Linked DNA regions of Homo sapiens. The protein of the gene in region 1 purifies or fractionates together with the protein of each later gene. This does not show direct contact. Each region holds a gene or a part of one and is shown in the gene's direction. Other genes may lie near its edges.

The links. The genes of interacting proteins can lie anywhere in the genome.
Region 2: the proteins of CDC27 (region 1) and ANAPC2 purify together in Homo sapiens (affinity purification with western blotting; 20 studies listed by BioGRID and IntAct, with this or other methods). This does not show direct contact.
Region 3: the proteins of CDC27 (region 1) and ANAPC13 purify together in Homo sapiens (affinity purification with mass spectrometry; 6 studies listed by BioGRID and IntAct, with this or other methods). This does not show direct contact.

The regions. Positions count from the first base shown.
Region 1 is NC_000017.11:47,151,286-47,158,307, reverse strand, and holds part of CDC27 (cell division cycle protein 27 homolog), read left to right. Parts: intron 1-4; coding exon 5-102; intron 103-923; coding exon 924-1,078; intron 1,079-1,183; coding exon 1,184-1,395; intron 1,396-3,443; exon of another isoform or gene 3,444-3,521; coding exon 3,522-3,636; intron 3,637-6,371; coding exon of another isoform or gene 6,372-6,389; coding exon 6,390-6,502; intron 6,503-7,022. UniProt on the Homo sapiens protein: Component of the anaphase promoting complex/cyclosome (APC/C), a cell cycle-regulated E3 ubiquitin ligase that controls progression through mitosis and the G1 phase of the cell cycle.
Region 2 is NC_000009.12:137,178,540-137,185,561, reverse strand, and holds part of ANAPC2 (anaphase-promoting complex subunit 2), read left to right. Parts: intron 1-474; coding exon 475-649; intron 650-1,770; coding exon 1,771-1,890; intron 1,891-2,319; coding exon 2,320-2,437; intron 2,438-3,699; coding exon 3,700-3,881; intron 3,882-4,632; coding exon 4,633-4,774; intron 4,775-5,034; coding exon 5,035-5,110; intron 5,111-5,177; coding exon 5,178-5,381; intron 5,382-7,022. UniProt on the Homo sapiens protein: Together with the RING-H2 protein ANAPC11, constitutes the catalytic component of the anaphase promoting complex/cyclosome (APC/C), a cell cycle-regulated E3 ubiquitin ligase that controls progression through mitosis and the G1 phase of the cell cycle.
Region 3 is NC_000003.12:134,482,965-134,490,140, reverse strand, and holds the start of ANAPC13 (anaphase-promoting complex subunit 13), read left to right. Parts: upstream 1-4,155; 5' UTR 4,156-4,189; exon of another isoform or gene 4,190-4,821; intron 4,822-7,176. Other genes in the region: CEP63 (centrosomal protein of 63 kDa), read right to left, coding at 3,414-3,421. UniProt on the Homo sapiens protein: Component of the anaphase promoting complex/cyclosome (APC/C), a cell cycle-regulated E3 ubiquitin ligase that controls progression through mitosis and the G1 phase of the cell cycle.

The DNA.
Region 1 (7,022 bases):
ACAGCAAGACAGATCGGCTTGCCAAAGGATCAGAATGTTACCAAAAGAGCCTTAGTTTAAATCCTTTCCTCTGGTCTCCCTTTGAATCATTATGTGAAATAGGTAGGTGGGTGGGGTTGAGAGGTGGGTGGGTTCCCATCTCCTCTTCTTTTTTTCCTGCTACTTAATTTTTGGAGAGCAATACAGATCATCTACCCCCAAGAAAAATATTTTTCAAAGTTAAAATTGAGAATAAAAAATAAGTTAGAATCTTCGGTATGTTTCAAGAATCATATAACTGAAAATTACACAAAGATTAAATCCAGTAGATTCTTCTGTTGAACCAATCTATTTTCAAGTATCTGGTGTCCTCTAGAATGGGTTATATTGTGTGTTTAACACTAGCAAAATTGCTTTCTGAATAAGAAAATTAATAAAATTTCTAATGCAATTAATAAATGCCTGAAACTTACAAGACCTGAACAGTACAGGGAGAGAATTTCTCAGTATATTTGGCCTAGGATACATAAAGGACCATTTTTCAGCATTGTTGCATCTATGTATATATAGAAGGGCTTCAACCTTTACTGTAAAATATGATGGGTTTTAACTCTTCAACCTCATCTCCTACTTTGAGAAAAATGAGATCTAGTTATTTTCAGCTTTAAAACAAACACAGAAATCTGCATTTTTCTGCGATTTGTTATGTTTAAAATTAGTGTTCTTGTAGTTTATTTTCATTTACAGCTTTATCTTACTGGTAAACTTTTATGATATATTGATAGATGGGTTTTTTGGGGGTAAATTTGATTAGCAGAAGTGGACAGGAGATTTTTAAAGTTTGGATAAGGCCTATTTCCTGTTTCCACTGATTTATGCATACTTGAAAAACATGTATTCCTCACTTCCTCAGAGACAAACTTTTTTTTTTTTTGTCTTCACAGGTGAAAAGCCAGATCCTGACCAAACATTTAAATTCACATCTTTACAGAACTTTAGCAACTGTCTGCCCAACTCTTGCACAACACAAGTACCTAATCATAGTTTATCTCACAGACAGCCTGAGACAGTTCTTACGGAAACACCCCAGGACACAATTGTAAGTGTCTTATATTCTAGTGTTCAAAATATTATGAAAACTACAAAGAATGATCTGAACTAAATAATATATTGTGAATGACTTGGTAGAAATTTTCTGTTTCAGGAATTAAACAGATTGAATTTAGAATCTTCCAATTCAAAGTACTCCTTGAATACAGATTCCTCAGTGTCTTATATTGATTCAGCTGTAATTTCACCTGATACTGTCCCACTGGGAACAGGAACTTCCATATTATCTAAACAGGTTCAAAATAAACCAAAAACTGGTCGAAGTTTATTAGGAGGACCAGCAGCTCTTAGTCCATTAACCCCAAGGTAAGTCAAACAAGATACTTTCAAATGTGCTATAATACCAAATGATCTTATGATAACTCATATTGTTAGTAATGCAGATTATTACAACAGCAACTTCTAAATCACTGTGGAAACAGGGGCATTCTGTTTTCAGAAAATGAAGTAAAAACTGGCAAATAGTGATGTTGCCAGGTGCGGTGGCTCATGCCTGTAATCCCAGCACCTTGGGAGGCCAAGGCAGGCAGATCACCTGAGGTCAGGAGTTCAAGAACAGCCTGGCCAACATGGTGAAACCCTGTCTCTACTAAAAATACAAAAATTAGCTGGGCATGGTGGCGGGCGCCTGTAATCCCAGCTACTCAGGAGGCTGAGACAGGAGAATTGCTTGAACCCGGGAGGCGGAGGTTGTAGTGAGCCGAGATGGAGCCACTACACTCCATCCTGGGCGACAGACCAAGACTCCAACTCAAAAAAAATTGATATTGAATATTGGACTGGCCAGGCGCAGTGGCTCACGCCTGTAATCCCAGCACTTTGGGAGACCAAGGTGGGCAGATCACGAGGTCAGGAGATCGAGACCATCCTGGCCAACATGGCGAAACCCCGTCTCTACTAAAAATACAAAAAACTAGCCGGGTGTGGTGGCACGCGCCTGTAGATCCAGCTACTCGGGAGGCTGAGGCAAGAGAATCACTTGAACCCGGGAGACAGAGGTTGCAGTGAGCCGAGATGGTGTCACTGCACTCCAGCCTGGGAGACAGGGCAAGACTCCATCTCAAAAAAAAAATTGGAGGAAAATTTAAAACTCTGAAATATTCCTTAATTAGGTAGTAAACACATTAAAAAATACTGTCTTTATGGCTGTGCATTAATGGATAGCGGTGAGCCTCATGAAATGTTATAATCAGGGCACCACTGGTTACTGTTAAAGTGCCTTTTTCCAAAACATGGAGGAAATTTGACACCTACCTTTTTTTGTTTGAGACAGGATCTCACTCTGTCACCCAGGTTAGAGTGCAGTGGCACAATCATAGCTCACTGCAGCCTCAAATTCTTGGGCTCAAGCGATCCTCCCACCTCAGACTCCTGAGTAGCTGGGACTGCAGGCACATGCCACCACACCTGGCTAATTTTTTAAGTGTTTTTGTAGAGATGGGGTCTTGCTGTGTTGCCCAAGCTGATCTGGAACTCCTGGCCTCTAGTGATCCTCCTGCTGTGGCCTCCCAAAGTGCTAGGATTACCGTGAGCCACTGAACCTAGCTGTCACACCTATTAATATAAAATATTTTATCAAAATTATTAGAAGTATATGTATGTATAAATACAGGAACTCAGCCCAGAGGATACATATCCAAAAGTATCAAAATGAAAAATTATGTGCTAGAATGGGTTGGGCATGGGGGCTCATGCCTGTAATCCCAGCACTTTGGGAGGCTGAGGTGGGCAGATCACTTGAGACCAGGAGCTCAAGACCAGTCTGGCCAACATGGTGAAACCCTATCTCTACTAAAATTACAAAAATTAGCCCGGCATGGTGACACATACGTGTAATCCCAGGTACTTTGGGGGTTGAGGCACAAGAATCATTTGAACCCAGCAGGTGGAGGTTGCAGTGAGCTGAGATCATGCCACTGCACTCCAGCCTGGGCAACAGAGCGAGACTCTGTCTCAAAAAAATATATACATATATGCTAGAAGAAATTCTATGAATCAGGTCCTGAGGCCGGGGAACTACTAAAATAGCATGACCATGAGATTACAACTCTGGAGAGTTATAGTTATCTAATGGTCTCTAGAGACATTTTCTCTGTAGTTGTGTCTAAATCCCATAAATTCCAAGAATTTGAAGTAATCTCATCATTTGGATCTTAGATTTATAAAGCTACTCTTCTTTATTTCTAATAAATCTCCTGAGATCAGTAATTGTTGCTCAGTTTAGTTCCTTGTTTGATAGCTTTTTAAAATTTTAGTTATGGTGGGTGGAATAGTCTACATTCACAGCTTATTTTTAATCTGCCCCTCAGATCCTCACTGTCCCTAAGACTGATTTGCCATTCTCTTCCTTTTAGACCTTCTAATTTAAGTATACTGCTGCTTTATATATGCCTTGATGACTTTTTGACACCTTGATTTCAACCTCTTCTCAGTTTTGGGATTTTGCCATTAGAAACCCCAAGTCCTGGAGATGGATCCTATTTACAAAACTACACTAATACACCTCCTGTAATTGATGTGCCATCCACCGGAGCCCCTTCAAAAAAGGTATTTTCCATGTAAAATGCAGTTTGGGAATTGATTAAAGCAACTTGTTTATTTCAATCTTTTAAAGGTAATCTCAGGGAAAATCTTACTTTATGTAATTGCTTTTGCCTTATATTTGAACCCAGCAGGTAGAGGGTGATCTAAATATAAAAGAATGTCATTATTGTTGTAGCCTCTTGGTTACAGTAGGAGACAGACTTCTTACTCTTTTGGCCAAGTAAGATTGTATCTCACAAATTTAGTTTATTTCAGCATATAGTTAAATAAACATAATCATATTTTTACTTTTTAATTTCCTTTTTAAAAAACAAAATTAATATTGTTTATATTACTTGACTATAAATAACAGAAATTATGTCTGCCATAGTTTTTACTTGTCCCTACCACTGTGTATATATGTTTTTTTAATAACACTAATAATTATATGAAAAAAAATTTGCTCAGGTAAAGCCAGATATTTCTGATAATAAGATTTTTGGTAGATCATGGATGTATAGTTTTAACATGAAAATGAAAAATATTTGGTAGTATACTTATAGTAAATATTGCGGCAAGTTTCATGAGGCTTTTTTTTTTTTTTTTTGAGACAGGGTCTCGCTCTCCTGCCCAGGCTGGAGTGCAGTGGTGTGACCATGACTCACTGTAGCCTCTACCTCCCAGGCTCAAGTGATCCTTCCACCTTAGCCTCCCAAGTACCTAGGACTATAGGTGTACACCACCACACCCAGCTAATTTTTTTAACTTTTATTTTTGTAGAGACAGGATCTCACTGTGTTGCCAGGGATGGTCTCAAACTCCTGGGCTCAAGCAATCCTCCTGCCTTGGCCTCTCAAAGTGCTAGGATTATAAACATGAGTCACTGCCCTGCTGAGGCTCTTGTTTTATAATGTTCCCTTTTATAGGTATATGGAAATAGAGGCCAAAATACCATTTTTAAAAAGCATATCTGTGGCACAAGGTAACTTCTGTGAGAATTAAATTAGGTTCTATATATAAAATACCTATTGCCATGCTTCATAAATATTCAAGAAATGGAAGCTAAACAAGTCATACTAATATGTGAATAACAGTTATACTCTCTTTACCTTAATAGAAACATGTTTCTTCTTATAGTTGTTTTTTTACTATTTTACTCCTGAACATCCTTAGAATCTGCAAAAGATTTTTCTATAATAACTCCTTAGTGAGTGATAATAGGAACTCCAAGAATACTTAAAAGGGACTGCAAAATAGTTTGTGTATGGATTGTTTTAAACATTACAGTTATGAAGAAGGCAAAACAAAATGGTAGTTAGCATGCCAGGTGAAGTAGGCCAAAACTAGAAGAGCCATAATAACCATAATAACCAGAGCAAGTTAAGACAGTGGGCAGGCACATGATTTTAGTGCCCAGATAAGATTGCTCTCTCATCCTCTTCTGCCTCTGTTCTCCTCTTACCTTATTACAAGACATTCCCAGAAAAGTCACGCATGTAGGTCTGCATGCAGTGTCAACTGAAAATATCAAACCAGGTATTGAGTGCAGTGTACATAGTTCTTTGATAAATAAGGAAAAGCCAGAGTTGACTTTTGTCCCTTGGATGAATGTAGTGATCCCAATTTGGAAAAGGCGGAGGAAGGCTTATGAAGTTTTATTTTGAAGTGGTGGTACATTAGATGAAAATATTCAGTAGAAAGTTAGTCATAGAGGAAAAAATGTGACCTGCTGATAGAAATAATAATTGAAACTATTAAAATGACCAGGCTCTCCTAGGGAAAGAAAGAGTAGCTAAGGAGAACAGAGTAAACCTAATTTAAAAATAGTAGAAGGATAAAGGGCCAGCAAATGAAGTGGCAGGACAAATAATGTAATGTTTTGGAAGTAACACAAAGTTTCAAAAAGTAGGGCATGATCAGTGATGTTGAATGCAGGAAAGGCTAAAATAAGGTTTTAATATCTGATGAGACAGTGATTATTAGTGATTATTTATAATATGCAGTTTGAGGATTGTGTACAGGACATCAGGGTAACAGTAAGTTTTGAAGAAAATTCTCTGGTAGCCAAAGGGGAAAAACAGTGCACTGATACAATAGTCATAGATCATTTAAAGAAGCTAGATGGTGGAAATGAATAGAAATAAGGGAATAAATTAGAGAAGACTGAAGAGCCAAGCAAAGATTTTTTTTTCTCCAAGGGAACAGAAACCAATTAATGAAGATTAGAAAAACTAAGCAATATTAACTCTAAAGAACAATATCCTTAGGTTTTGGAAAGTAATCAGATGGTTGTTTTTTTAAAATCTACTCCTCTGAACTCCTTTAGAACTGTTACCAAGTGCCAAAGGAGTATAAAATCTTATCGTATTATTATTTTTTTCTGTGTATAATGAGATAAATCATAAATCTTGAGAATTTAGCTGTCTTAAAATTTTTTAGTACTTAACCCCAAATAGAGAAGGTATGTAATAAATGGAGGATGGTCACAATGAGATGAAAAGAATAGCTTCTGGGGATTTTTAGTCTTTGAAACAAAAAGCGAAAGATGAAAAGACATTATAGAGGTAAAAATACTGTGAGATTAAAACAGGGAAATAGACTGATGTTCATACTAATACAACAATAATTAACAATATGATATAAATAGTTTATCTTTAAGGTGACAGTATATTATGGCTGCTTGTATTGAGAAAATGTAGATGGGAGCGTTGTGTTGTCTTTTATCATTTACAGTGCAGCCCATAATTCACAAACCTTAGACTTTTCGTGTTTTACAGTCTGTTGCCAGAATCGGCCAAACTGGAACAAAGTCTGTCTTCTCACAGAGTGGAAATAGCCGAGAGGTAACTCCAATTCTTGCACAAACACAAAGTTCTGGTCCACAAACAAGGTATTTATCATTGTAATTATTCAACTTTTCTTGGCATAAAACTTGATTCTTTACATTTCTTTAATTTAGGCAGATAGTGACTCTCGTGGATTCTAGAATAACTACTGTAAATTTTGAAGATGTAAAATTTGAAACCTCTAACTTACAACACTAATGTAATTTTGAGTTGAGTTTTGTAATGCACAGAAGACAATAGTTAACTAAAGCAGCATTTTAGTTTACTCTGATTGCCTCATGGATTTGTAATTTTCTTCTTATGCACATGACCCTTTCTATAGTTTAGGTACAGATAGGTTTCATACTCCCCTTCCCCACATTATGCATGTCTATAAACAGATTATAAAAATAACAGACAAATAAACTTCAAATAATGAATCTATTTCCACACAGAAATGGTGTTAGATAGGATTTTCTTTTCCTCTTCAAGGACTCAATAGATTATAGCTAACATTTTAAAAGGAAGATACAATTTTCTTTCTCCTTTCTAAAACTGTGAACATGTACCTAAATTTTAAAACAG
Region 2 (7,022 bases), on another chromosome or scaffold:
GGAGAGGGTGAACATCCGTGCGGTCTTGCCACTGGGTAGCAGGTCTGTGGGGCATGAGCACGCCTGGGCCCCGCGGCGGAATTGCCACCTAGAGGTTTGTGCTCGCCTGGGCCCCCCGGCTGGTCTCAAGGGCGTGTTTATCCATTTAAGTGGGGGCAAGTGTGCCCACCAGGCACAGCGCACAGGTCGTGTGTGTCTGTCATGTCTCACGCTAGGGTTGCTGCTGCCAGTGATAAGTGTGGGCACTGGCGCGTGTGAGAGGCACGAAGACTGCAGGGGGGCCGGGACGTCGCCTTTTGGGCCATCACCCACCCTGCAGGTTTTGATGTGCTCCAGCCTCCAGACGCAGGTGGCCTTCGGGCTCCCCTCGGTCCCGGCCGACAGGGTGGGTGGCCGTGAGGCTCCTCCCAGCCTCTGAGTCAGCCCGGGGCTCACCATGCCTCCCTGCAGCTCACACTAGCGTTCTCCTGACAGTGGATCGAGCGGGTGGTCGGCTGGCTCGGCAAGGTGTTCCTGCAGGACGGCCCCGCCAGGCCCGCATCTCCCGAGGCCGGCAACACCCTGCGCCGCTGGCGCTGCCACGTGCAAAGGTTCTTCTACCGCATCTACGCCAGCCTGCGCATCGAGGAGCTCTTCAGCATCGTCCGAGGTGGTCCTGCCCCGGCCCTGGGGTCCGCTCTCCCGTCTGGGGAGTCTTCCCAGGGCCTTCCCCGTGTCTCCTCTGTGTCTGCATCTGGGCTCCCTGTGCCTTCACCGTGTCTGCTCTGTGTCTGCGTCTGGGGCTCCCAGGGCCTTTGCCGTGTCTGCTCTGTGTCTGCGTCTGGGCTCCCTGTGTCTGCGTCTTGGGCTCCCTGTGCCTTCGCCGTGTCTGCTCTGTGTCTGCGTCTGGGCTCCCTGTGTCTGCGTCTGGGCTCCCTGTGCCTTCACCGTGTCTGCTCTGTCTGCGTCTGGGGCTCCCAGGGCCTTCGCCGTGTCTGCTCTGTCTGCGTCTGGGCTCCCTGTGTCTGCGTCTGGGGCTCCCAGGGCCTTCGCTGTGTCTGCTCTGTGTCTGCATCTGGGCTCCCTGTGCCTTCGCCGTGTCTGCTCTGTGTCTGCGTCTTGGGCTCCCTGTGCCTTCACCGTGTCTGCTCTGTGTCTGCGTCTGGGCTCCCTGTGTCTGCGTCTGGGCTCCCCGTGCCTTCACCGTGTCTGCTCTTTGTCTGCATCTGGGGCTCCCAGGGCCTTCGTCGTGTCTGCTCTGTGTCTGTGTCTGGGCTCCTTGTGTCTGCGTCTGGGCTCCCTGTGCCTTCGCCGTGTCTGCTCTGTGTCTGCATCTGGGGCTCCCAGGGCCTTCGCCATGTCGGCTCTGTGTCTGCATCTGGGCTCCCTGTGTCCACGTCTGGGGCTCCCTGTGCCTTCGCTGTCGCTCTTGCAGGGGGGTGCACCGGGCAGTGCTGGGACTGTCCCCACTGCGGCGTCCCCCGTGCCTGGATCAGGGCAGGTGTGGCAGATGCTGGACAGTGCTTCTGGGTGTCCACTGCTGTGCTGCCTTGGCCTTGGCTCCTGCTGGGGACTGGCCCCTGGGTGTTGCTCTGTCCACCCTGTGGCATTGTGGTCAAATGCATCAGCACGCCAGAGTGTCGGGGGGATGTCTGGTGCCTAGCAGGTGGTCTCATCATCGTCCTGGGGCTGGCAAGCACGTGTCCTTTCCCACACCGCACACACTCTGCACCAGCCTGCACGTGCGCACGCATCCATGTCTGTCCCTGAGGGATGTTCTTCTTCTTGTAGACTTCCCAGACTCCCGGCCAGCCATCGAGGACCTCAAGTACTGCCTGGAGAGGACGGACCAGAGGCAGCAGCTGCTCGTGTCCCTCAAGGCTGCCCTGGAGACTCGGCTCCTGCATCCAGGTGCTGTGTGCTGCCCGGCCACCCAGCACTCTGGGCTTAGACACTCACCAGGGGACCCATGTCCAGGGAGCCTGGGGCCTAGTCTGCCAGCCCTGGACTTGTAGGTCTAAGGAAGAAATGGGTTGAGAAGCAATTGGTGAGGTCCTTAGGGGATCTGAGGTGCCCGTCAGCTTGCTTGTTTCTTCTTTGGAGGGAGTCAGGACTGACCGGTAGGTCTGAGGTGATGAGACTTAGTTCTCTCAGAACAGACCTCCCTGCAGGGCGGGACCTGTGAACAGGTAGAGGTGGGGATGGGGGGACAAGGGAACGAGGCTGCAGTGGGGACCTGTAGACCACCTACCGGCATGGCCAGCTGTCTACTCGGGTGTTGCCCCTGGGAGGCTGTGGTCCCGGGCACTGCATGACTGCTGGCTTCTGCCCTGGCTGTAGGCGTCAACACGTGTGACATCATCACCCTCTATATCTCTGCCATCAAGGCGCTGCGCGTGCTGGACCCTTCCATGGTCATCCTGGAGGTGGCCTGTGAGCCTATCCGCCGCTACCTGAGGTGAGGGCTGCAGCTGGCCCAGGAGCCACTGGGACCCTGGGCATCCTGCTGAGCTCCTCGTGGTCCTGGGGGGCAGCCGGAGGGTGTGTTCGGCCGTCAGGACACAAGGTCTCCCCCGGCTGGGCTGAGTGCACGGGATCAGGCCCGAGGCTCTTTCCTTTCCTCTTGCCCGTGCCGGGCACCTGTCCTTGTCACACGGTGTCACCGTGCCCTCTGTGTGCAGCTGCCAGAGGCCCACCACAGCCCTTCCTCAGCCTCCCCATCTCCAGCACAGAGAGAAGCTCTTCCACTTGGCCTCGCCTTGGTGCTGACCAGTCCCCAAGGCCGACCAGGCAAGGGGAGTGGGCTCTGCTGTCCTGGCCTTTCCCACGGCAAGGAACAGACACTCCTGGGGCTGTTCGGTGGAGAATGTGTTGGGATGAGGACCTTGACATGGCTGCCTGGGAATTCCTCAGGGGTCGCAGAGGCCCTGGCCCGGGGCTGGCAGGCACAGTGGCCCCCAGGAGCCGAGCAGCAGGAGCCGGTGGAGTCTGGCCCCTACCTGGACTCCTTTGGTGCTTTGTGGCTGTAACTGGCCTGGCTTCTGAGCCAGTTCTTTGTTTTTTCTTTTTTTTTTGAGATGGAGTCTCACTCTTTCGCCCAGGCTGGAGTGCAGTGGCACGATCTCTGCTCACTGCAAGCTCCGCCTCCCGGGTTCACGCCATTCTCCTGCCTCAGCCTCCCGAGTAACTGAGACTACAGGCCGCCACCAAGCCTGGCTAACTTTTTGTATTTTTAATAGAGATGGGGTTTCACCATGTTAGCCAGGATAGTCTTGATCTCCTGACCTCGTGATCCGCCTGCCTCGGCCTCCTGAAGTGCTGGGATTACAGGCGTGAGCCACCGTGCCCGGCCCTTTTTTCTTTTTCTTTTTCTTTTTTTTGAGGCAGGCTCTCGCTCTGTTGGAGTGCAGTGGCAGAATCCTGTCTCCCTGCAGCCTCGGACACCTGGGCTTAGGTCTTCTGGCTTAGTGTCCCTATGTGCTGGGATTGCAGGTGCGCAGGCCGGCCTTGCGCTCGCAGCTCCTGCTGCTCCCAAGTAACGTTGGGTTTATTTGTTTTTAAGGAGTCTGACGGGCCTGTGTTTAGTACATAGCCCATCACCACTGAGTGTAGAGGCAGGGTCGGTGGTGCTGGCCTAGATGGGGCCGGGACTGGAATGAGTGGTGGGAGGTGCGCGCGGGGTGTCCACACTGTGGGCCACAGCAGCACTCACATCGGCAGGACGCGGGAGGACACAGTGCGGCAGATTGTGGCTGGGCTGACGGGGGACTCGGACGGGACAGGGGACCTGGCTGTTGAGCTGTCCAAGACCGACCCGGCGAGCCTGGAGACAGGCCAGGACAGTGAGGATGACTCAGGCGAGCCAGAGGACTGGGTCCCGGACCCTGTGGATGCCGATCCAGGTTAGCTTGCCCCACATGGTCCCTTTCACCAGTGTGGGGGGCGCTTCAGCCAGGCCGTCCGCTCTGGACTCATCCCTTGTCACAGAGCTTGGCTGTGTCAGGTGTCGCTAGTGTCTCAGAGGCTTGAGGGTGTCAAAGGTCAGGGCAGTGCTCCGCCACCTGCCAGCCTGGGCAGGCCGGTGATGGGCTGTTTTCCTCTGTGGCTGGTCACTCTGGCCGTGGGGGATGCCCTGCCTCCCACCGCTTGTGAGCTGTGGGGTGTCCCTGCCCCGCCACTGCACCTGGCAGAGGAGTGAAGATGTGGGTGACCCCTGAGCTCTGTACTGATTTGGGCCTCAAAGTCCCGTTAGGGTGCCAGCTCCTGCTCAGAGCCCATCTGTGCCTGGCCCTCGTCTGCGAGGGCTCTGAGGGCTATGGGGCCCAGGCCTGGCCCCTGCCCTGGCACAGATGGTAAGTCTTCAACACATCTTTAGTCTCTCTCAGAGGAAAACCCCAGGACCTTTGGCTTGTCCCCTAAGCCTGCATGGGAGTCCCGGAAGGTCCCTGTGGGGTGAGAGGGGCTGGGGATTGAAGCTGTTGCTCCAGGACCTGACTCCAGGTCTCCCGGGAGGCTCAGGGCTGCTCCCAGCCTCGAGGGCCTTCAGGAAGAGCCATGCTGGGCTGTGCCGTCTGGCTGGGCGGGATGGGAGGAGGGCGGCCCTGTCCTTGCCCAGGTGCCTGTCAGGTGACACCCCTGCCCCCACCATGCCAGGGAAGTCGAGCTCCAAGCGGCGTTCATCGGACATCATCAGCCTGCTGGTCAGCATCTACGGCAGCAAGGACCTCTTCATCAATGAGTACCGCTCGCTGCTGGCCGACCGCCTGCTGCACCAGTTCAGCTTCAGCCCCGAGCGGTGAGGCCTGTGACGCGCTGGCCATCTCCAGGGGTGCCGGGGCCTTTGCCCAGCCTCTCTCGGGACAGGGCCCTGACGCCGTGCCTGGGGCCTGGTTGGAGCTGTGCTTCCGCCCCCACTCCTGGCTGGGGGTGTGCTAGCCATTGGGGTGCCCACACAGGCTCCCTGCTCTGCCTGGGGGGCACCCCCGTGCCCTGCCACAGGTGCTCCTTGGGGCTGGGGCTCATCACGACCCCCTGCCCAGACACTCGTCTTTCCAGGGAGATCCGCAACGTGGAGCTGCTGAAGCTGCGCTTTGGCGAGGCCCCAATGCACTTCTGTGAAGTCATGCTGAAGGTGGGTCCCAGCCCCGCCCGCTGCCCGGCCGCCCCGCAGGTCCCCCGTGACACCGGCTCCTCCTCAGGACATGGCGGACTCCCGCCGCATCAATGCCAACATCCGGGAGGAGGATGAGAAGCGGCCAGCAGAGGAGCAGCCACCGTTCGGGGTCTACGCTGTCATCCTGTCCAGTGAGTTCTGGCCGCCCTTCAAGGACGAGAAGCTGGAGGTCCCCGAGGATATCAGGGCAGCCCTGGAGGCTTACTGCAAGAAGTATGAGCAGCTCAAGGTACCTCCATGCCAGGCCACCCCATGGGCTCTTGGCACCCCTACCCTGCACTGCGGGGCTCCCAGCAGCCTGGTGCCTGTGGCTGCCCCGTTGTCACCCGAGTGTCTCTGGGTTGGTCCTGTCTCGCAGCCGCCTCTGCAGGAGAGGGAGTGGGCCTGGCCCACGCTCTCTCCGCCTTCCTCCCAGCAACCCCGTGTCCCCTGTGAGCGAGCGTCCGCGCGGCCCACAGGCGCTTGGGTGGGCTGTGCTGGGCCCAGGTCTCCTGAACTGCTTCAGGGGGACCCCTGTGGCCACAGCAGGCCCTGCCCTCTGAGCGTTTCCTCCTCTTTTGCTATCCACCCTCTGCCTCTCAGAACCGGGGCTTGGGGTGCCTTGCGTCACTGCAGGGAGGCAGCTAGGGAGCCAGGGCTGCCCTCTGCCCAGGGCAGCACTCCCAGGCGCACCTGACCCCCAGGACCCCAGCCCTGCCCCCTTCTCCAGGTCTGTTTCCTCGAGAACTGCCTTTGCAGGCTCCAGTGGTACTTGAGGACCGGGGCTATGGGTCTGTGGTGGGAGTAGGAGGGGAGCAGATGTGGGGAGTGGAGGAGTGAGCCCTGGCCTGGAGGTCACTGGCAGATGGGGACAGTGTGCCCAGAGGATGGTATTGGCCACGTTTGGCTCACTTCCCCTGGCAGCACTGCTGAGATCCCAGCAGTCCCAGTACAGGCGTCCAGAGCCTGAGGGATGGAACTAGGCTTGGCGGTTCTTTCCCTGAGCTCATAGTCAGGTGGGAGGTGTCAGCTCGGGGAGGAAGGGTTAGGATGGTCGTCACAGGTGGGAGGTGTCGGCTCGGGGAGGAAGGGGTCGGGATGGTCGTCACAGGCGGGTTCCAGGGCTTTCTGTCTGATGTGTGGGGCCTGTGAGGCCTCCAGTGTGCCCAGCGAGTGCTCAGGACTGGGGGGAGGCGGGCACCCCAGCGGGGGACATGTGAGGAGAGGGTTCTGGGGCACAGCCAGCATCCAGTCTGCAGACCCCAACCCCAGGTACCCCAGGAAGGGGATGGTCCAGCCTCGGCCCAGGCAGGAGGAGCAGCCTCAGGACAGAGCCGCCAGGAGGCCGGCGGGCGGGCGGGGCTGAGTTCAAGGGAGGGTCCACAGCTTCTCCAGGTCTGCTGTGAAGGAGGCTGGACCTAGATGTGTTTTCCTTTTTCTTTTGCAAGTAAGAGGGCCTTGCTGTGTTGACAAACCAAGGGAACTTACTCCTAGGGGAGGGCAGGGCGATGTGTCCACTTTAGAAACCAAGGGGGAAGCTTCCTTCCGGAGACAGACAAGGGGAGGGCCAGGCGGAGGCCCCCAGGGCAGGAGGCCAAGGGGCTGTGGTAGGGCCGGGCTGCTGACCATGGTGGCGAATGCCTGCTGCCTCCCTCCAGGCCTCAGCTTGGCTCTGGAAGAGTCCAGGTGTCCCTTGCAGCTTGTGGAGGGTCTGTGTGGCTTGCACCTGCTCTCGGTGGAAAGGAGCACCCTGGCCATCCCCACACCTCGAGCTCTGGCCTGTGATACAGCCTGGTGTCTCTGGAGCCTGCGGGCACCGTGCCCCGCTGTGTTCTGGTACAAATCATCCGTGTGGCCCGGCTCCGTGCTCGGTCCCTTTCCCCCTGCCCCT
Region 3 (7,176 bases), on another chromosome or scaffold:
ACTAACGACTAACCTAGTAGCAAGAACACCTCTCCCACCTAGGTAAGACTGTGGTCTCCAAATACTATCTCAGACTCAAAAGAACCACGGCTCCTTGAAGACCAGAAATCTATAAATGAGCCAGGAAAATTATTTACCAGAAAGCAAGGAAATTACCAAAGCTATTGGTCATATCAAATGGAATAGGAGCCAACTTTAAGGAGCTCCCACTGGCCAAAGATGAAACAATTTGAGTATTAAAAACACAACTGCCATATGTTGAAACAGTTTAAATATAAAGTCTATAAGTTCATGATTATAGGTTTACAAAAAGGCAAAAACCCTCATGGTTACCTTTGGAGGCTGCTAGGCCACCAACTCATTACTGTGGTCTGAAAATAGAGGCAAAGAATTAAGCATTTTTCTTGCCTTTCCTGTACAAATTGTATTTCAGGGTAGTCAAACAGCTGGAAAGGGAAAGTTCTTCATAAAAGACTCTCAGTTGATAAATATTGAAGAAATAATAGAATTAGATAATCACCACGTTGCAACCTCTAATGCAATAACGGATACAGGCAATATAACCCCACAAAAGGACTTCACCACTAAGTGAAAGAGTCTTGGGGAATTTCACTATGGGTGGATGGAGCTAACTACACCTAAACCCAATATAATGTTTAATGTTAACATCATAAAAAAAGAAAACAACTCAGACACTGCTTCCCTGATAATTAATGAAATAGGAAGTATACTGCATTACCTATGAAATTATCTGTCCAACCCCCCCAACTATCCCACCAAAAAACAAAACAAAAACAAATATAAGGGTGAAATCTCATCAGGCTTCTAGAGCAGTGCTGTTCAATACAACTTTCTGCAATTATGAAAATATTTTATAACTGCACTGTTCAAAAAGCAGCCACCAGGCAATCTGTAGCTACCGAGCACTTGAAATGTGGCTAATGCAAGTTAGGAACTGAATTTTTTTTTTTTTTTTTTTTTTGAGACAGTCTCGCTCCGTCACCCAGGCTGGAGTGCAGTGGCGTGATCTCGGCTCACTGCAACCTCCACCTCCCGGGTTCAAGCGATTCTCCTTCTCCTGCCTCAGCTTCCTTAGTAGCTGAGATTACAGGCGCATGCCACCACGCCCGGCTAATTTTTCATTTTTAGTAGAGACGGGGTTTCACCATGTTGGTCAGGCTGGTCTCGAACTCCTGACCTCGTGATCCACCCACCTCAGCCTCCCAAAGTGCTGGGATTACAGGCGTGAGCCACCGCGCCCAGCCTAGGAACTGAATTTTTAATTTTATTTCACTTTAATTAACTAGCCACTGCTGGCTGGTGGCTACAATACCGGACAGTGCAATTCTACATCTAACTACTGGTTTAGAGCAGTGGTCCCCAACCTTTTTGGCACCAGGGACCTGTTTCATGGAAGACAATTTCTCAACACCGACAGGGCGGAAATAACACATTTTGTAAATATCTTTTTGTTAAAATTCATATGAAATGTTTTGGGGGAGGAATGGCCAAACCACTTTTTTTTGTTTTTTGAGACCGAGTCTTGCACTCTTGCCTGGTCTGGAGAGCAATGGTGTGATCTCGGCTCACTGCAACCTCCGCCTCCCGGATTCACGTGATTCTCCTGCCTCAGCCTCCCGAGTAGCTGGGATTACAGGCGCACACCACCACACTCGGCTAATTTTATTGCATTTTCAGTAGAGACGGGGTTTCACTATGTTGGCCACACTGGTCTCAAACTCCTGACCTCATGCCCACCTCGGCCTCCCAAAGTGCTGGGATTACAGGCGTGAGTCACCGCGCCCGGCCAACCACTTCTTCAGTAATATGAATAATACACATGGACAGGGTTAGGGGCATGGTTTCAGGATGAAACTATTCCACCTCAGATCATCAGGCATTAGTCAGATTCTTATAAGTGTGCAACCTAGATTCCTTGCATGCGCAGTTTACAATAGGGTTCGTGCCCCTAGGAGAATCTAACCTCACGGCTGATCTGACAGGAGGCAGAGCTCAGGTGGTAGGTAATGCTCACTAGCCTGTCACTCACCTCCTGCTCTGTAGCCTGGTTCCTAACAGGCCACGGACTGGTACTGCTCTGCGGCCCCGGGTTTGGGGGCCCCTGGTTTAGAGGACACAAAGGCAACAGAGATACATGTTAAAGGATACTGTGCGATGCAATCTGCTAAATTTAGAACTGTAAGGAAAAATAGGGGCTAATCCCATAGCTATAACTATGAGGGAACAAATATAGATTAAAAGATGTCAAATGTGCATCACCCAAACACAATAGGCAGATCCCTGTGGGATTTTGGTTCAAACAAGCTAATTGTAAAAAGACATTTAAGAGACAGTTGAAGAAATCGTTATCTGACTGGATATTGACATTAGAGAATTTTTATTAATTTGTGTATGTGTAATGACAGTACTGTGGCTCTGTAAAACTGAAAAACCTAGCTCCTGATGGGGGCGGGGAGGCGGACTAAAATAACATAAAGATCGGAGATTCAGTTCCTGAAACCTTCTGTCAATGTTGGCTTTAGCTGAATTTCAAGTCAAGTTGACATTTTTTGAAAGCAGGAAGCAATGACAGAGTGGACTACTGATGCTGTCACCATCTGCCAGCACAACATAAATTAGAACAGAAAGGACTAAGCAAAGGTCTTCCACCATTTTAACGAGAGGAAATGGCATCAGTACAATCAACATACACAATTTTTACAAACAACTTTTAGATTTGCATCTACATACATTTTAAAAGGCAGTGTGCCTGTTTATAAATCTCTACTCTAATTTAGTTTCAGAGCTTTTTACTACCCTGATCACTGATAATGCCACAGTCAAAAAGCAAACTCAAAATAAAAATCAATCTAAAAATGGTACTGCATGCCAAATAAGAAAATATATACACTTTATCATTAAGCTACAGCTAACAGAAATCTAATCAACGATCCTTATGATTTCCTCGTATCTAAAAAATAAATGCAAGCACTTGAGGAACTGTATAAATACAGGGCATCTACCCTACAATACTGCTTTATTAAAATAATAAATTCTTTTAATAAGTTTAACCAGACATAAGGCTCAGGGAAAACTACTCTGTGCATATCAGCGTACGGTGCTGAAACTGTAAAAGACGACCTGTCTCTGACATCATACTCATCTTTACTCTCCTGATGTCGTAAGGGACGTAAGAAAAACCACATTATAAGCCTAAATGTACTGTCTTCAAGTATCTCCATGATTAAAGTGTTCCTAAGAAACCGTCCTTATTTCTTTCTATCCCTCATTTGTGTGCATGGAGCCGTTAGTTCAGGGTTCTCCAATTTCAGTCCACGATTTATGCCACATTTCCGTACCTCTTGTACTAACATAACCGTTTAAACCAACTCACTATTTTAAAAGCTGCCAACCTTAACATGCCACACTAAATGAGCGGGTCCCCTTGTGCCGTGAATGAAGTAGTCCCAACAGCGCTAGCTAGACAGCAGCCCTGGCAGGGAGGCCGCACTGGGGTCTCTCCGCTGAAAAGGAAGGTGGGTCCGCCGGGGAAGGTGAGTACTGGGCGCAGCTCGCTCGCCCACCTGGCCACTCTCCGAAGCGCCCCCAGCCACCTGGACTCCGAGGAAGGGCTGACCACCTGGCGGGGCCGAACCCCACGCCGGGCTGCGCCACGCCAGACTCCGCCAGTGTGCAGGGCATAGCGGGCCAGGCCGAGGGACTGGGCTTCGGGGCGGACCCAAGCCGGCGGGGACGCGCCTGGTGGTTCGCAGGCCGTTGCGCAAACCGGCCGCAAGCCATGAGGCCGCGAAGCCAGAATCACCAAGGCAGCCTGGGCCGCCTCCAGACCAGGACACGGCAGCCCCTTGCCCCTCCAACTTGCGCACCGGCGGTTACAGGGTTGCCGCAAGCACGCCCCTGAGCCTTCCCGCCGTTACCTCGGGCCGGCGCTGCGCACGCGCGCCACCGCTAAGCTTACGTCCAGCCTCTGTAGTCGGCGCGTTTGTTCCGCCCACTGCCCCCACACTTTTAATAATTGAAACAATGCCTTCTCCAGACTTCCCCTGCACGCGAGCAAATGAACTCACCCACATCCGGGAATCCGAGGAAAGCGAGTGCAGACACGTGATGCGGGGGAGGGGGGGGGGGCGTGGCAGGAGCAAGCGTCTGCCGCGGTGGCCGGGTGCCGGTAAGGGTTTCCAGCGCCCCCGGCCTAGGTTTTGGAGGCGCGGGAATGCGTTCGTTGCTCAGTGTCGGACTTCCCCCTATTCCCATCGGCCGAGGCTGTCACTTTACGCTCATAACCGTTTTTCTTTACTGCACTCGTGTCGGGAGGAAAGGGACTTGCGTGGCACCCCCAGACCTCCCCGTCTCCGCTTCCACGTTTGGTACATCCTGCCTGAGGCAGGAAGCCGCAGCTGAGGGACGGCCTGTCGTACGGTGCGGATGGTGGTGGCCTGCGAGGCTCATTTCTAGCAAGGAACAAGGCTTTCCCGCTTTGATTTTATAAATATTATGTTTACAAAGCTGTAATATATAGAAATTGATAAGACGTGTCCCTGTCCCTGGAAACGCAGGCACCGCGTGTTTGGAAAGACATTCATCTGGGCTGTTTGACAGACTCCCCAGTTGGTGCCATGCTCTGTGCTTAGGGAACTGTGAGACCCCTGGAGGGGTGGGTACCGGGACCGCACTCAGCCTGGGGTTTGGAGGCGGCCTCCTATAGGAAGCGACCTGGGACCTAAGATTTTTAGACTGACTGTGGGTTCACTGGAATAAAAAGGAAGAAACAAAGAGCATTGCAGGCATCGGGACTGTCACGTGAGTAAGAAAAGTTTGTTCAGGAAACAGTGGTCGTACTGGGTGACGAGTACTTGGGACGGTGGCTTTAATACACAAGATAATCAGTGTGCCCTGGGCATTGATTATCTTGATGCTTCCCATCCTTCCAGCCCCTTATGAGGGAAGGCACCTTCGCGCCTAATCCCGGAAATGGGATGTTGACCTTCAAGAGCTGACGCCTGCGTTTATCTTGAAAGGAAGAGTGGCATTAGTGATGTGGAAAAGGGGGTTTTAACTGTCAAGGCTGGAAAATGTGACAGGGTTGGAGGTGTTTGGAGAAGGGACAGGTGAAAAAGATTGAGACCAAATGTGGAAAGATCTACTAAGGAATCATGGGTACAAAATGTACACGTAACAGTTGGAGGCAATAATACCTGAGCAATTGACCACAAAGCTGACCTAGCTTGTTTAGTAGATTAAGTTAGGACAAGAAGCAAGAGTTCAAGGATAGAAGGCCTACTGAAGCTCGAGTGATTTGAGAAAACTTTACAAAGGTGGAAAATCTACGTGGGCCTCCGAAAGTCAGGTTTGGATCAGCTGAGGAAAGTGAGAAGGGTATCCCAGGAGACAGAGCAGCAAGGACAAAGGAGTAGCAGCAGGAAAGTGGGGAGCACTTGTAAGACAGGGACTTCAAAAGTATAACCAAAACTTCGTCTTGCTTTGAGTTATCCACTGGGTAGTACTCGGTTAATTATTGAGTACTGGATTAATTAAGCCCTCACCTGGCTCACCGGTGACAGAAGTAGCAGGGCGCATTTTGCTTAACTTTTGCCGAGATCCTTGTCATGGGGGTGTAAACCCTTTCCCACACCAATCTGTGTATAATTTTTGCCAAGGTGTTAGGGATATCTTGCAGTTATCCTATGGGGGACAGCTGTGAGCCTTTTTGGTTTTTTTTGTTTTTTTTTTTCCGAGACGGAATCTTGCTCTGTCGCCCAGGCTGGAGTGCAGTGGCGCGTGGCGCTATCTCGGCTCACTGCAAGCTCCGCCTCCCAGGTTCACGCCATTCTCCTGCCTCAGCCTCCCGAGTAGCTGGGACTACAGGCGCCTGCCACCATGCTCGGCTAATTTTTTGTATTTTTAGTAGAGACGAGGTTTCACCCTGTTAGCCAGGATGGTGTTGATCTCCTGACCTCGTGATCCGCCCACCTCGGTCTCCCAAAGTGCTGGATTACAGGCGCGAGCCACCGCGCCCGGCCCTGTGAGCCATTTTTACAAAAACTTCCACCTGCCTTGGCCCAAACCTCAGCGTTCTTAGGCACAGGAGCTCATGAACATACTGAGATAACACTAAACTGGACTATGCGAAGGGACCAACTACAGACCTGACACAAATCCTCAAGGCAAGACGATGTCTGAAGTTGAGCTTGTAAAGGAAATGGCTTCCTTCCTTAAAATATCACCCAGGCTGAGCTCTGAAAAAAGCACCTCCAGATGGTGGGTTCCACCCCGCTCCACCACCCCAAAATTGCTTATTGTGTGAGTCTCCATAGTCTCAGAAACTGAGAGTACCTTTGATGCCAGTGGCTTCCGGGCTTTTTGGATTGTCACTTGGTAGCAGGGAGCACCCATAGGATGATGCCTATGATGAGTCAGGGCCCAACCTTGGAAACAGGGAAATCCAGAAGTATCCTACAAGCTAGCCAGCCTTTTGGATTAGATTATAGCAGTTTCAGAGAAAAATGGGGAATCAGCCATGGTCAAGGAGCTAAATAAGCATCGTGACCATTTGGGCCAGAAATTGAAGGGAGTGTAGCGTTAAGAATTAGAGGAAGGAACCTCCGAGGAAGGAGCTACCCCAAAGGGAAGCAGAAACTGGAGAAACTTTAGCAGTATGAGGTTCTACCACTGGTGTTCACCTAGAAGTGCTTTATTCAGATCTCAGCCTGGGTACTATTTTAGGGAAGGAAGCCGTTTCCTTTACAGTATGTTCGTGTGACTCCTGTGCCTAAGAATGCTGAGGTTTGAGCCAGGGGCTAGAAAGGAAACTTAGCTGGCCATTATGAATCAGGGACTCATCAAAGGCATCACAAACAGGAAAAGGTGAATGTTCAAGTTAGAAGAGAAGAGCTACATTGAGATGCAACATATTAATATTTGAGGGCCTCGTTTAACGTGTTGCTCTCCTGTCACACTCTATGACACTGGTCTGTCAGCTGGGCTATGCCTGTCCAGTATACACTATAAAATATGTATCAGTTGGGGTTGGAGAGAGGAACTGTGATCAAAGTAGTCACCCGGCCCATATGAGAAAATGAACCTTTTCCCAAAAGGTGGCCCCAGACTAAAAAGCCTGGAGAATCCTAATAGTGGATTATACCATCTCTTCAGTCT